2 separate regions of the Homo sapiens genome follow, and region 1 is linked to region 2. A link means that fine-mapping ties the variant in region 2 to the expression of a gene that starts in the linked region. Tissue or cell type: whole blood. Region 2 holds a variant in brackets; the other region holds the start of a gene. All regions are shown on one strand. Distances are between the middles of the regions.

Region 1 (6,764 bases), 48 kb before region 2:
CTTCAACTATGTAGTTGGGTTGTCACGCAAAGGATGCTGAAGTGCCTCCCTATTTTCTTCTTTCTCGTTGCTGCTACTTTCTGGAACCACCACCAATGCTTCATATTTGGGAATTAGTGACTCTCATTCCATTTTCAGAAAGCTGGTGTCAACTATCCCAAGAAAGACAGTTAAGCAAACTTTGGAGAGACGAAATAGTAAGGAAATAACTTGTTCCTTAGGCTTAACTTGTCAAGCAATATTTCTGATATTTTGCATTCAATACACTGCCATTCTAGTACTGTTGTGGGTATTACTGTATGTGGGAAACAATGGTGTCATGGATGTTAGGAAAAGATGCTGGGATATATATGCCTGCTTAGAATCAGGAGAAAAGACAAATCTCCTTTCACCCTCCTGGTCAGCATAAATATTTTTAAAGATTGTTTAGATTTTTGTCAAGATTTCTTTCTCTTGATGAATTTGTCCTCGATTCAGTGGGGAGAACCAAGAGCCTCTCTTCGTTTCTCATCCTCTCCCTTCCCTCTAGTTCTCAGTTTTCCCATTTTTCTGCACAAGGACAGAAGTGGACTAGAAGATTACATCTAAGGTCCCGTTTAGCTCACGATACAGGCCCTCCCAGAGGTGGGGGTGTGGGCAGGGTCATGTTCCAAGTTCTGCCTCCCTCGATGGACTGTGGGCTCCCAGAGGGCAGAGCTAGCTCTATTCTCATGATTAAGGACATCGAGAAGGAAGGGGTGACGCTCCTAGGAGATGATTTCCCACCCCTGTCCACAAGGAGGATTGGGGCAGCCTGGAGAGGCTCAGTGCCCGCAAGAATTAAGCAGAAGTTGGGACTGGACTGTAAACTGATGCTGTCGCACATGCTTTGGTTCCTGTCCCAAGCCTCCCAGGTTGCTCCGGGTGACTCTGGCCCAGCTTCTGGCTATCCATGAACACAAGTAGTCCCAGGGAGTCATTCTGGCAGAACCCAGGTCTGCTAGCTAAGAACTCCTGAACCATCCGCAATCTCTGCCTGTGGCCTGGACTTGGTGTATGGCCGGCAGGGTGGAAGGAGAACCCACAGGGCCTCTGAAGACAGGCAGGTGGCACACCTGCGGCTGGGAGGATTTGGAAAAGGAGTCCAGCGCCATTCATTTTTCATTCATTTTCCAGCCCAACGTTTGACCTGAATGCTTCACGCTCACACTGCACACACTACTCCATTTATAATACAACTCGAGAAGGGCACATACTACTCCATCCACAGCTCAGTGAAGGGATGCATACTACTCTACTCACAATTCAACGAAGTGGTGCATCTGCCTCTAATTTACTAGCTACCCTGGGGACCTTGGACACGTTGCGTGTCTGGAAATACTGCAGGTGATGTGTGTGGAGTAGGCTGCAGGCTCACCGTCCTGCAAATACTAGCTGTACCACCACCGGCTTTAAAGTCCAACAGACCTCTGGCCCAAGTCAAGTAGCAGAGGATCCAGGGCTTGGGTGGCCCACAAATAGGATTCTTCTCCAAAACGAGGCGCATAATGGCCTTTGTCTCCTCGACAGAAAAGGGAAGGTAGACTGGCTTCCTCTATGGGCGACCTTCGCGACTCTGGAGAAAAAGACCTCATCATTCTCAGACTTGGGAAGGAAGACTAAGCCCGGAAAGGTGGGGACAAGTCCGCTCCAACGCCGCAATGGGGAGTAGTAGGGACCCAGCAACCCGGTGCCGGGAGCCCTGCACCCTGGGAGGGAGAGGCGGTCGCTGAGGCAGGAAGAGGAGGAGGAGAGAGAGGAGGGACGCACCGGGTCAGCTCGCGATCCTGCTGCGCAGGGCGGGGCTCGGGCCGGTCCGCCCGCGCGCAGGTGAGTGAGCCAGGGCGGAGCGCAGCTGCGCCGGGCTTGGGCGCCTGGGGCCGCCGCTCCCCACCGTCGTTTTCCCCACCGAGGCCGAGGCGTCCCGGAGTCATGGCCGGCCTGAACTGCGGGGTCTCTATCGCACTGCTAGGGGTTCTGCTGCTGGGTGCGGCGCGCCTGCCGCGCGGGGCAGGTGAGTGCCGGGCTTTGGAGGCGGATGGCGTGGAGTGGTGAGCTAGCCAGCCAGCGGACGCCCGGCGGAGATGCGGCCGAGGGACGCAGGGTGCGGAGGGTGCGGAGGGTGCGGAGAGAGGGCGGGGACGGCGTAGTCAAAATGCGCGGGTGGCTCCGGGACCCCCGGACTGTTCGGTTCCTGCGCGCGCCGCGTCGGGCGCGTGGGCCTTGCCCTCCTGGAGTCAACCTTGCCCTCGGCACGTGAGAGTGTCCCCGATCGGGGAGCCTCCCGGTCCGGGAGGATGAGCCCGGTGCTGGCCGAGAAGGCGGGAAAAGGAGCTCCCGGTAGCCGATCCCAGGCGACATGTCCAAGGTGGCGCGCCGTGCGCCCCAGGGTCTTTGCCGGGATTCTTGAAAGCACCCAGGCAGGGTGTGGGAAGAGATCTTTCCTCTCCAGGCTCGCCCTCTACCTCCTCGCCTGGTCCAGAGAGAAGGTGCAAAAAAAGTGCTTTCACGTCCGCATTTCCCACTAGATCCCCTTTTTCCCGTCCGCACGCTGCATTCCCCCTCTCCTAAAGTTGAAGAGCGTTGGTGCAAAAATGAAAGCGCCCGGATTTCTTTTAGGGGGTCCCAGAGAAAGCCGCCAGGCATCTGCGCCACCGCAGAGACTGGACATTCCCGCGCCCCTCGCACTTTTTGGCAGTGGACTTTGAGGGCAGGAGGCTGTTGTTCCGGGGATATGTGTGAATTTCGAGTTGTTTCGGTTGGGGGAAGGGACCAACACGTCCCAGTGACCTGTGCCAGCCAGGAAATGCCCTGTGGGCCCTGGATGTATTAGAACGTAGTAAATAACCTGGTTTCTTCATGTAAGAACTTGATGTGAGGCTAGTACAGGTTTCGCGAGATTAGTACAGGTTTTGTGTTTTTTAAATAGAGCTCTCCAGGAAGCCATGTGGGTTTGATTCCCCTTGCTGCATCTAGGGTGGATTTGTGTTTGGCAGGTGTAAATTAGATAAAGGAATAAAAGGACGCAAGTGAGGTTGAATTTGGGCGTCCCGGTGACTGCCGTCTTTACAAATACAAGACAGGAGCTTCTAAAATATCAATATAAGCTCCAGGAATACTTCCTGGTTCATTCTCCAACATCAGGTGACATATTGCTGCATAGTAGATAGAAAATTTAAAACTTCATTTAAACCATGGCATGGATTTATAAATATATATATAAATTATATATATTAAAGTAGAGACAGGGTTTCACTGTGTTGCCCAGGCTGGTCTCGAGCTCCTGAGCTCAAGTGATCCTCCCACCTGGGCCTCCCAAAGTGCTGGGATTACAGATGTGAGCCACTGTGCCTGGCTGATGAATATTTACTATAATTTCTTAGGACTGAATTTCCAAGATTCCCTTTGAAGAAAAAGAATTAGTTTAAGAATAAAAAGGAAGTGAAAATATGTGTATATGTGTGCTGAGAAAAATGCGTGCCTACCAGTCTTGGAACAGTATTGAAACTCTGGGAATTATCTGAGATGTTTTTGGCTTTCTGTGACAACAGTGGGGAACTCTTCCAGTCAGAACAGGGTGTTAATCAAGGCATTGCTAATAATGAGAGCCTCTGTTCCTGGTCTCATTTCTCCCTGTGATCTGGGAAGGCTGCCATTTTGGTCCAGTAACTCCAATGGAGTCCCTTCCAGGAAGTCCTTGACTGGCTGAGCCCTGTCTCATGGTTCAATACATAAATACGTAGAAACCTAGGAACTTTCCCTTTCGCTTTCTTAAGTTCCTCCCTATGGTCTCAGGAACTGGCCCTTTGAGGGTACATCAGGCTGAACTGAGAGCTTTTGTGGTTGGAGTAGTTGCCTGTAGTCTTGAGGATCTAAGTGGCAAAGGCCTTTGAGAAATTCCTGGAGACTGTCCTGAAAGGATACAGAAAGCCAGAGCCCTGGCACAGTGGATTTGTTTTATAAATCCATGAAGTCTCTTAACAAAGAAAGACTCAGCAGAGTAAAAATGAATTTGGTGTCACTGCAGAGATGAAAAGTAAAGGAAAGTTTGTGTCTTGGTGTCGTGTGTTTGTGTGACTTTGGTATCCCCACCAACTCCCCCATTTCCAAGAGTGAAACACTGGTTACATTGGGATCATAGCCTTTTGAAAACCTCCATTTGGTTGCTTTCTAAGAACCACTCAGATACCAGAGTCTGGGTCAGTGACCCCAATCTTGCCACCATTGTCTCTTGCCAAAAATGTGAGCAGACAGATCAAATGATATATTCACACTCCCTGGGTGAGTGTGGGTGTTCATTCTGTTTCCGATTCAAATGAGGAGCTACTGGCTGTTGTCTGGAATGTGTAACTGGTAGCGCTGATGAGTCTCCCCCATCTCCTCCCCCACATCCCCACAGATTTGCATGACTTGGAGTCAGACCTGTTAGCCCTAGGGCTCACCTCAGATGCTGCCATTTCATCTATGATGGTTGCACGCCTTGCATGTGCACACACACACTCTTCTGGGTGTTCTCCCTGGCTATCAATATGGGGGAAGGAAGTTAATAATTAAGATGTTTTAAGTAGCATATAGTTATTGTAGAAAAAGTGGCAATAAATATAACCAAAATGGAAAAAAATTATCTATAAGCAAACTGCCTTATTCACTTTGATGCAGTCTTCTTAATGTGTATGTATGCACGCTCATGTGCACAAACCAAAAATGGGATCATCCCATTGTATGGCTTTAACCAGTCCCCAGTTGTTGGACATTTAAGTTGCTTCCAGTTTTTCTTATTAAAAATAGAACACGTCCAACAATAGCCAGCTGCTTGTATCAATTTTAATAGGTCTATTCAGTGAAAAGGCACTTGAAATTACATAGCACAGACTAGAAAATGACATGAAAGGATGAACCATTATCCTCATGTTGCCAAGGTTATAAAATGGTATCAACTGGATTATCCCATTTTGATGTATCTAAGAATGTGTTCTTCAGCTGTGTTGTTCTGCACACTCTTTTTTTAAATTTTTGAGACAGAGTTTCACTCTTATTGCCCAAGCTGGAGTGCAATGGCGCGATCTCGGCTCACTGCAACCTCCGTCTCCCAGGTTCAAGCTATTCTCCTACCTCAGCCTCCTGAGTAGCTGGGATTACAGGTGTGCACCACCACACCCAGCTAATTTTTTGTATTTTTAGTAGAAACGGGGTTTCACCATATTAGCCAGGCTCGTCTCAAACTCCTGACCTCAGGTGATCTGCCCGCCTCGGCCTCCTGAAGTGCTGGGATTACAGGCGTGAGCCACCGCGCCCATGTTCTGAACATTCTTAACTATTTTGTCCAGCTACAGTTCTGGAAGCAGAGTTGCTGGGATGAAGAGTAGAGAGGCTCTTAGGGCTTTGGACGCGCATTTCCACGTTCTGGAAGCAGAGTTGCTGGGATGAAGAGTAGAGAGGTTCTTAGGTCTTTGCACGCGTATTTCCGTGTTCTGGAAGCAGAGTTGCTGGGATGAAGAGTAGAGAGGCTCTTAGGGCTTTAGTTGCGTATTTCCATGTTCTGGAAGCAGAATTGCTGGGATGAAGAGTAGAGAGGTTCTTAGGGCTTTGGATGCGTCTTTCCATGTCACCTGTGGAGAGCCTGTCCTGGTGTGCTTTCCAGCCATCAGTGTGTTAGTGCTTGTTTCTCACATTCTCCCAGGCTCTCCTCACTGTTGTTTCACCAGCATCTATGGAAGAAGCATTTTCCTCCCTCCAATTTGGCAAATAGAATCTGGACAGTGTTGCTGGGCAGACTCAAGAGTCTTAGAAGCACCACCCCAGCTGGATGGTACTAATAGCTCACCAGTGCTTTTTTGCCAAAAGAAAACAGAACTGGGTCCCTTGGCTTATAACACAAGCCTCACCTGCGTTTTTGCCTAGCGGTGCTGACCTGGGTTTGGATGGGATAGGATGAGGTGGGGAGTGGGTAGGGAGAGGAGTCTGCTGGTCAGAAAGACCCCTGATTGAGGTCAGGGTGGGTGGGACAGTGGGAGATGATAAGACCACTGATGTGGGGGACCAGTGGCTAGGGTTCTCTGCCTTGGTGGTTAAGAAAAGTTTATACCGAGCCAGGCGCAGTGGCTCACGCCTGTAATCCCAACACTTTGGGATGCTGAGGGGGGCAGATCACATGAGGTTAGGAGTTCAAGACCAGCCCGGCCAACATGGCAAAACACCGTCTGTACTAAAAAATACAAAAATTAGCCAAACATGGTGGTACACACCTGTAATCCCAGCTACGCAGGATGCTGAGGCTTGAGAATCGCTTGAACCCGGGGGGCAGAGGTTGGAGTAAGCCTAGATCATGACACTGCACTCCAGCCTAAGTGACAGAACAAGACTTTGTCTCAAAAAAAAAAGAAAAGTTTATACCCCTTAATTATCATTCTAAATTATAAAAATTATGCCATAATCAAATTATTTCAAACCACTTCCCACAACCTTGTAATTTTCATCTCCCGGGCAGCTGGCGCATTCTAGACAACCAGGTAAGGAGATCCAGGCTCCTTCCCTCGCCCCTTTGTAGCCTTGGGTTTGTATCTGGTCCATCAGTCTTTAAAAGTATTAACTACTATTGCTGCTTGTAATAGCCAACACATTTGCTGTGCCAGCCACTCCTCTGAGGATTTTACAAATAAGCATCTTCTGATTAACATCAGTAATCCATTCCTGAAAACCAGACATTCTGTATGAAAACACTAAGCAACGCTATACATCCCATTATT
Region 2 (8,209 bases):
CTGATCCAGCAGATGTGAAAGGGCAGAATCCTAAGCCAACAGTGGGAAAAACCAAGAAGAAATCTGCTTTATCCTGCAAAGCCTCAAGAATTGGCAGCAAGTCTCCTCCAGAACTGGGGGCAAATGTGGGGCTAAGGTGGGAAGAGCCACTAGAGCCCCAGATGGTCTCCTTGCCAACAAGCAGCCAAACAACTGTTCTTCCCTGAGCTGACAGAAGAGAGAAGTTTCTTTTCCTGAGATGAGAGTCCCTGAACCAAAGATCCCAGTCACACTGAAGGTGGAGGTACTAAGCTGAACACGGGGGATTGAGTAAAACTGAAGTACTGAGCATGAGGCTCCATCCTTCCTTCCCTGGTGCCCATGGGTATGTTTCTTCCCTTCGGTAGAGAATGACTTCTTCTCTGGGGGCATCTGACCAATCTAAGAGAAAAGACCCAAAGATATTGATGTTATGGGCTCCCCAGGAAGCAATCTGGCCATATCACCCTACTGAGAAGCCCAGTCAACAAGCAGAGCTATTCCAAATAGCATTAGTGCCTCACTTTAAATAAGAGCAGTATATAGATCCCCAGACATCTGGTGAAGCCTAATGAAAAATACAAAGACTAAAACAAATGAATAGAAGAAAAGCCACTTGCAGGAAACAGAGACTATAGAGGGAGAAAAAACTAAAAATCAGCTATCAAGACTCTCAAGTTAATAAGAAGAGATGCTGCGTTTATGTAAAAGGAACCGGTTGTAATTTTTAAAAAGGGCTTTCAGGAGAAAGCTCGTTTTTAATCTCCAAGAGTTCAAAGGAACTCTTGGAGATTAAAAATATGTTAGCAGAAATGAAAGAGTCAAAAGGGCTGAAAGATAAAGTTGAGGATATCTCCCAGAAAGTGGAGTGAAGAAAAAGCCAGCGCGATAGAAAGAAAGAGAAAATATAAAACTCAAGGACCAGTCAAGGAGGCCCAATATCCGGATAGATGGAGTTTTACAGAGAAAAAATAGAGGGAAGGGAATCATCACAAAATATTTCAGGAACATTTGCCAGGACTGATGGATATGAGTTGCCAACTGGAAGGGGCCACCACACACAATGGATATAAATAGACCCACACCAAGGCACAGTATTGTAACATTTCAGAATATCAGGGACACAGAGACCCTACAAGCTTCTAGAGAAGAGGTAAAAAAGTTTTATACGGAGGAAGAAGAAACCAAATGGCAACAAACTTTATCAGCAACACTGGGTATTATAAAACAATGGAGTAAGATCTTCAAAGTTCTGAAGGAATATTATTTCCAACCTAGAATTTTATACCAAGCCAAACAATTAAGTGTGAAGGTGGAATAAAGACATTTTTAGACCTACAAGATCTAAAAAAATTTACCCCCATATATACTTTCTCAAGAAGCACCTGAAGGCTGTAATCCACCTAAAAAGAAAGTAAAAATTAAAAAAAAAAAAAAGAAAAGAAAAGATGGATCCAGGAAGCCCAGGATCTAGTCCAAGAGAGAAGCAAAGGGAATCCCATGATAACAGTGAAGGAGATCCAGGATCACACCTGAGCACCAGGCATCAAGAGCAGCCCCTTTAGATTAGAGCATTGAAAAGGCTCTGGAGAGATTTCTTAAGAAGTTGAGGAAGTACCTAATGTTTTCAAATTTATTGAAAGGAGATTTATACAAGTGGAAGAGAGTTTGGGTATCAAATTATTGATAAGTACATAGAAACTAAGGAAATGATTAAAATGATAATAATTCACTACAGGGAACACAAAATTTTATGCAGAAAGGAAAAATCATTATAGCATGCAATATAGTGTAGCTACCTAAACACTGTTAATATTATTACATAGTCACGATTACACAAACATAGAATGAAGATCTAGCTGAAAATATGACGCTAACTATCAGGAAGATGGGAGAATGGGAATGGGAAGTGTGTGTGGTGTGAGTGTTCGCTAGTCTGTGCTGTGTTGTGGGGGTGTGGGGTGTGGAGGGGGTGTGGGGTGAAGGAGGAGAAATCCACATCTTCCTGAGTGGGAAGCCAATAGACAGTGCCTGAAACTGAAAGATCCATAGGCAGCAATGGAACGGAGTGTGTTATTGAGCAATGGAACAGAGCATGTTTTACTGCGGTTATCCCAGGCTCCTCCCCTGGGGTAACCACAGTCACGGATTTGTTATATTTCTCTCCATATCTTTTTTCTCTTCATCTGCATACATAAATCTGTACATATAAATAGCTGTTTTGTTTCACAGATACTCAGGAGGCTAAAGCAGGAGAATCGCTTGAACCTGGGAGGTTGAGGCTGCAGTGAGCTATGATCACGCCACCGCAGTCCAGCCTGGGTGACAGGGTGGGACTTTGTCCCCCAAAATAATAATAATAATAATAATAAAGGCTGAGAATCTCTGCTTTAAAGTATGTGCATGCATGGCTTTGGTAAGATGGAAATGAGGGAAGAGCGGGTGGGGAGACCACTGCAGTGTGTGGCGGGGCCTTGGTAAAGGTAAGCAGGGACTGCAGAAGCAGAGGGGCTTCTAACACGGCTTTGGGGTGGGGAGGTGTCCTGCAGGTAACAATGAAGGTGAGTTTTGAAAGACAGTAAGAAATGAGCTGGATGTGGGGCCAGGTGATTGAAAAGCTGACTATTTTCCAAATCAAATTATATTTAAGTTAGCAGCATTAGAATATATACTTCAGCTCTAGACATGGCATCTCTCTAATTAAAGCACTATTGGATGTGATGTCAAAATTTACGTGGAAAATAGACAGCAAGAACTACAGCAGGCAATTAACAGATATGACAGCCATAAAACATTTTCCTAATTGTGCTACTAATTTGACACCGAGCTTCCCTGCAGCCAGTTCAAGAGGAGAGAGTCCATCAATTATATGGTTCCTGTTATGAGGAAGAAGGAAGTTTAGCAGGCCTTTTTGGAAATAGAGCTTTCCCAGTTAGAATTGAACTCATTCGCCGGCGCTGATGGGTGATATTGTCAACACCCTTGAATTGCAAAGTTAGCACCACTTTGCACAGGCGCCTTCCTAATCTGATGGGCTTTTTTTTTTTTTTTTTTAAACAAAAGAATGAATGAAATTCAAAAGCAACTCAGTACAAGTTGATCCCCAGGCATCTGTGGTGTAGAGCTTTCTAGGGATAACATTAAAAAGTGAAATGAGTCTTTTATAAACCAATCTGGTAATCTATTCTAAAGAGTTGAAAAGGTATCCCTATTCTTTTTTTCTTTTCTTTTCTTTCTTTCTTTCTTTTTTTTTTGGAGACAGAGTCTTGCTCTATTGCCTAGGCTGGAGTGAAATAGCGGGATCTCGGCTCACTGCAACCTCCACCTCCTGGGTTCAACCGATTCTCGTGCCTCAGCTTCCCGAGTAGCTGGGATTACAGGCGCCCACCACCATGCCCAGCTAATTTTTGTATTTTAGTATTGATGAGGTTTCACCATGTTGGCCAGACTGGTCTGCAACTCCTGACCTCAAGTGATCCACCCGCCTCAGCCTCTGAAAGTGCTGGGATTACAGGTGTGAGCCACCATGCCTGGCACTGTTCATTTATTTCTAATGGCAAAATTATAGAAATCACCTAAATGACCAATAATCCAGCAGTTTTCCAAATGATGCAAGAAATAGGTAACTATGTTCTTGTTAGAAATTTAAATATTATAGGCAAAGCTAAAATCCTCCTTGACCACTCAGTCTGTCTTTACTCCCAGGCCCCTCCTCTGGGGTAACCACAGTCACGGATTTGTCATATTTCTCTCCAGATCTTTTTTCTCTTCATCTGCATACATAAGTCTGTATATATAAATAGCTATTTTGTTTCACGGAGAGATTTTACCATCTGCATTGTATCATACTCTACATATTATCTACAACTTGCTGTTCTGCTCAATATTTATATTTAGGTTTTCAAATCTCCCTCTTTTTTTTTTTTTTTTTTTTTTTTGAGACGGAGTCTTGCTCTGTCACTAGGCTAGGGTGCAGTGGTACAATCCCAGCTCTCAACAACCTCCGCCTCCCGGGTTCAAGCGATTCTCCTGTCTCAGCCTCCCAAGTAGCTGGGATTACAGGCATGTACCACCACACCCAGCTAATTTTTGTATTTTTAGTAGACACGGGGTTTCAACATGTTACCCAGGCTGGTCTTGAACTCCTGACCTCAGGTGATCTGCCCGCCTCGGCCTCCCAAAGTGCTAGGATTACAAGCGTGAGCCACTGTGCCCAGCCTCCCTCATTCTTTTTAACAGCTCCGTAATATTCCATTGGTGAATGTCCCCATAGTTTATCTATTCCAGTATAAGGTGGTCTCTAGTTTCCCACAATCACAGTGCTGCAGTTAAACGTGGGCACTCATGGCCATGTCACACTGTTTGGTTCCCAGAAGAGACAAGAGTTCATTCTTTTACTAATTCCCATGTTTCTGTAACAGGGTGTTCCAGGCTCCCACTGGCCGTGTGCCAAAGGGCCTGTTTCCTGTAGCCTCTCCAGCTTTCAGTATTGCCAGACATCTACATTTCCCCCCATCTGAGGAGTGGGATACAGTAACACTTTGTTTTAACTTGCATTTTCTGATTACAAGTGACATTAAGAACTTTCTATATTTTAAATATTTAGTCATTTATATCTCCTTTCCTGTGAGCTGCTCAATCATTCTATATTGCAAACACTTTCTCCCGACGTGTCCCTTGTCCTTTAACCTTATTTGTAGCACCTATCATCAGACAGATATTTTAATCTTTTTTTCACTTTTATAATTTGTGTTTATGCCACATTTTTAATGATTTTCTCTTTGTTTTTATTGTAGTGAAGTCCATTATTTTTCTTTTTAACTGTCTTTTATAGTTATTGTAATGTTGCCTTAATAATACGTTTTCCCAACATTATCCATCCATGGTCTGATATGCCATTTTCTTCCTCAGGAGAGGTTTTCTACCAATTTTTGCCATTTCCCGTGTTGCTGCTGATCCATGCTTC[A/C]TGCCTGTTTTCTGTTTGTGGTTTCAGATAAAATCTACGTGGTTGACTTGAGTAATGAGCGAGCCATGTCACTCACCATCGAGCCACGGCCCGTCAAACAGAGCCGCAAGTTTGTCCCTGGCTGTTTCGTGTGTCTAGAATCTCGGACCTGCAGTAGCAACCTCACCCTGACATCTGGCTCCAAACACAAAATCTCCTTCCTTTGTGATGATCTGACACGTCTGTGGATGAATGTGGAAAAAACCATAAGTACGCCCCTGAATCAGTGCATTTGTCCCTGGCCATGGATAGCTCTTCTCTCCCCGCCTTGCCTTAGTGGGGTTCCCTGGGTAGGTTGTAAATCATATCAAAAAGGCCCATCTGGCCGGGCACGATGGCTCACGCCTGTAATCCCAGCACTTTGGGAGGCCAAGGCTGGTGGATCACTTGAGGTCAGGAGTTCAAGACCAGCCTGGCCAACGTGGTAAAACCCCATCTTTACTAAAAATACAAAAATTAGCTGGGCATGGTGGCAGGCGCCTATAATCTCAGCTGCTCAGAAGGCTGAAGCAGGAGAATGGCCTGAACCTGGGAGGCGGAGGTTGCAGTGAGCCGAGATTGCACCACGCACTCTAGCCTGGGCAACAGAGTAAGACTCAAAAAAAAAAAAAAAACCCCACCCACAGTGCAGGTGAGCAAGGGTGACCAGGAGGCAAGCAGAGTGGGTGTCAACACGTCCCTTTGGACCAGCCTCAGGTAGAGCCTGCAGCCCTCAGAACTGTGTCATACTGCCCCATGTTCAGGCTTATGTCTCTCTGCCCAGCCTTCCAATCTTCCTCTTGTGAGATCCTCTCCTCTCTTGCTCAGACTTCCCCAGCCTCTCCCATCCCCATCCCCCCACACCCCACACCCCCACTTCCACACTCACTGCCCTCTTGTCTTCTCTCACACAAGACTGTGATTCCTGAGGTCAAGAACTTTGACTCGTTCTATTTTTCATCCAGTTAGCCCCTACCGGTGCTGGACATGCACTAGTCACTTGAAAAATGTTTGATTGGCCAGGCACAGTGGCTCATGCCTGTAATCCCAGCACTTTGGGAGGCCGAGGCAGGCAGATAACTTGAGGTCAGGTTATCAGGCAGATAACTTGAGGTTGGGCAGGCTGGTCTGCCAACATGTCTGCCCAACATGGCGAAACCCCATCTCTACTAAAAATACAAAAAATTAGCCGGGCATGGTGTTGGGTGCCTGTAATCCTAGCTACTCGGGAGGCTGAGGCAGGAGAGTCGCCTGAACCCGGGAGGTGGAGGTTGCAGTGAGCCGAGATCGCACCACTTCACTCCAGCCTGGGCAATAGAGTGAGACTCGGTCTCAAAAAAAAAAAATGTTTGATGACTGAAGGCCAGTAAACCAACAGCCACCTCCTTGCTGGGCTACCATGACTTCTGATGTGTGCTCTTAGTTCAAATGCAGGAACTAAGGCCACAAGAGGCAAAGTAGCCTGCCCAAGAACACCCTATTAGGAAGTGGCAGAGCCAGAAGACGAACTAACATCTCCCCAACGCCACTCACAGCTCCAACCACTGCCCAGAACTGCCTCCTGAGCAACACGTCTGGGTGGAGTGAAACCTGTGCCCTGCCCCATGACACTTAGCATCTAAGACACAGATACACAGAAGAAAAACTTAAGCAAAAAAGGAGAGGAAATTTCAACCCTGAGTACTACCCAGAAGTTTGTTTGCCAGCTTAGTAAACAGTAAGAATGTTTACTAAGAGAGCAGAGGGACCGCTAGAAAAGGAACACAGAGGAGCCAGAAGCAGAGGGCAGGGTGGGAGAAGAGAGACCGAAGGGAAACACAGGGCAGCATGCAGACACCCAACCTCAGGCTGACGGGAGAGCTGGGGAGGGTGCACTTCTGGTCTCCTTTGTGCATGGCTAGCATGCCCCACTTCTTCCAGGCTGCACAGACCACCGGTACTGCCAAAGGAAATCCTACTCACTCCAGGTGCCCAGTGACATCCTCCACCTGCCTGTGGAGCTGCATGACTTCTCCTGGAAGCTGCTGGTGCCCAAGGACAGGCTCAGCCTGGTGCTGGTGCCAGCCCAGAAGCTGCAGCAGCATACACACGAGAAGCCCTGCAACACCAGCTTCAGCTACCTCGTGGCCAGTGCCATACCCAGCCAGGACCTGTACTTCGGCTCCTTCTGCCCGGGAGGCTCTATCAAGCAGATCCAGGTGAAGCAGAACATCTCGGTGACCCTTCGCACCTTTGCCCCCAGCTTCCAACAAGAGGCCTCCAGGCAGGGTCTGACGGTGTCCTTTATACCTTATTTCAAAGGTAAGGGGGGTCTCCCCTATCTCCATGCCCCTTTAGTTTAAGCGTTTATTTGATTTTAGTTTTGTGATCACCTTAATTAAGTTGCCAGTTTGGAAAGAAGGGATAGCTCAATATGCTGGTCCTTGCACAAGAAATTTGAAAGATAGTGAGTCCTAATCCTGACTTTACCATTAACCTAGCATGGAAAATTCCTGAGATTAGAAATAAAAAATGTTTCTGACAGTGAGAGGCGATGGTTGGTAGGCAGCAAAAACATTATCAGGTTTGAGTCTTTTTTGGAAGCAGGCAGGACGTAAATGAGAAATAGCCAGATATTCCCCAGTCCCGGATTTTTAAGGTAGTGACATAAAAATCCTTAGGCAGACATTTTTATGACTCTGCTTTTACAATTCAGAATGCAGTGCCGAGAGCACAGAGGGAGGAGCGTTGGGAGGGAGACGAGTCTCTGGAGCCAGAGTCCAGCAGCACGGCTGGGCAGACCCGACCCTCCTGGGAGGCTGGCATGTGGTCTCCATGTTCTGAGGCAGTAAATGAGGTCTAAATGGCTCACAACGTGACTTCTACATGGTTGACTTTAAAAGTCACAGTCACCATTACAAGTTGCTCCAAGAACATTAAGTTAGAGGCCATTTTAAAATTGACCAAGACCTTTGATGTTTATTTCCTACTCTTATTCTCTGAGGTGTGAGTGGGAGGGAGAAGAATCTTTGGTCATAAGATTAAGGTGGGTCCAGGCTGCCTGATATCTCCAAGGTTACCAGAGAAACTCCTTCTGAGGAGTCTTTGCAAATAAGACACATTCTCATCAGTGTGGAATGTGTGGGTTTTATCTCTCCTGAAGGTAAGGAAGGGATTAGTTGACGTGTCAGGAGCTCTTTCAGCTTTGCAGTTCCGGAACTCTTCCCA

Evidence for each region. PIP is the estimated chance that this variant, and not a neighbour inherited with it, causes the effect.
Region 1: CDCP1 starts here. The variant in region 2 is fine-mapped to the expression of CDCP1 in whole blood (TOPMed, PIP above 0.99). The same link has a PIP of 0.9 or more in blood mononuclear cells.

What each region holds. Positions count from the first base shown.
Region 1 is chr3:45,141,474-45,148,237 of GRCh38, reverse strand. CDCP1 (CUB domain containing protein 1) reads left to right here and starts at 1,860. Exons shown (of 9, transcript NM_022842.5): 1 at 1,860-2,032. The coding sequence starts at 1,951.
Region 2 is chr3:45,092,371-45,100,579 of GRCh38, reverse strand. It overlaps CDCP1 (CUB domain containing protein 1), which reads left to right. Exons shown (of 9, transcript NM_022842.5): 5 at 5,012-5,233; 6 at 6,923-7,303. Among named protein-coding and RNA genes, the nearest start is that of CDCP1, 50 kb to the left of the region's middle. The variant A/C (reference allele first, on the strand shown) is at 4,985.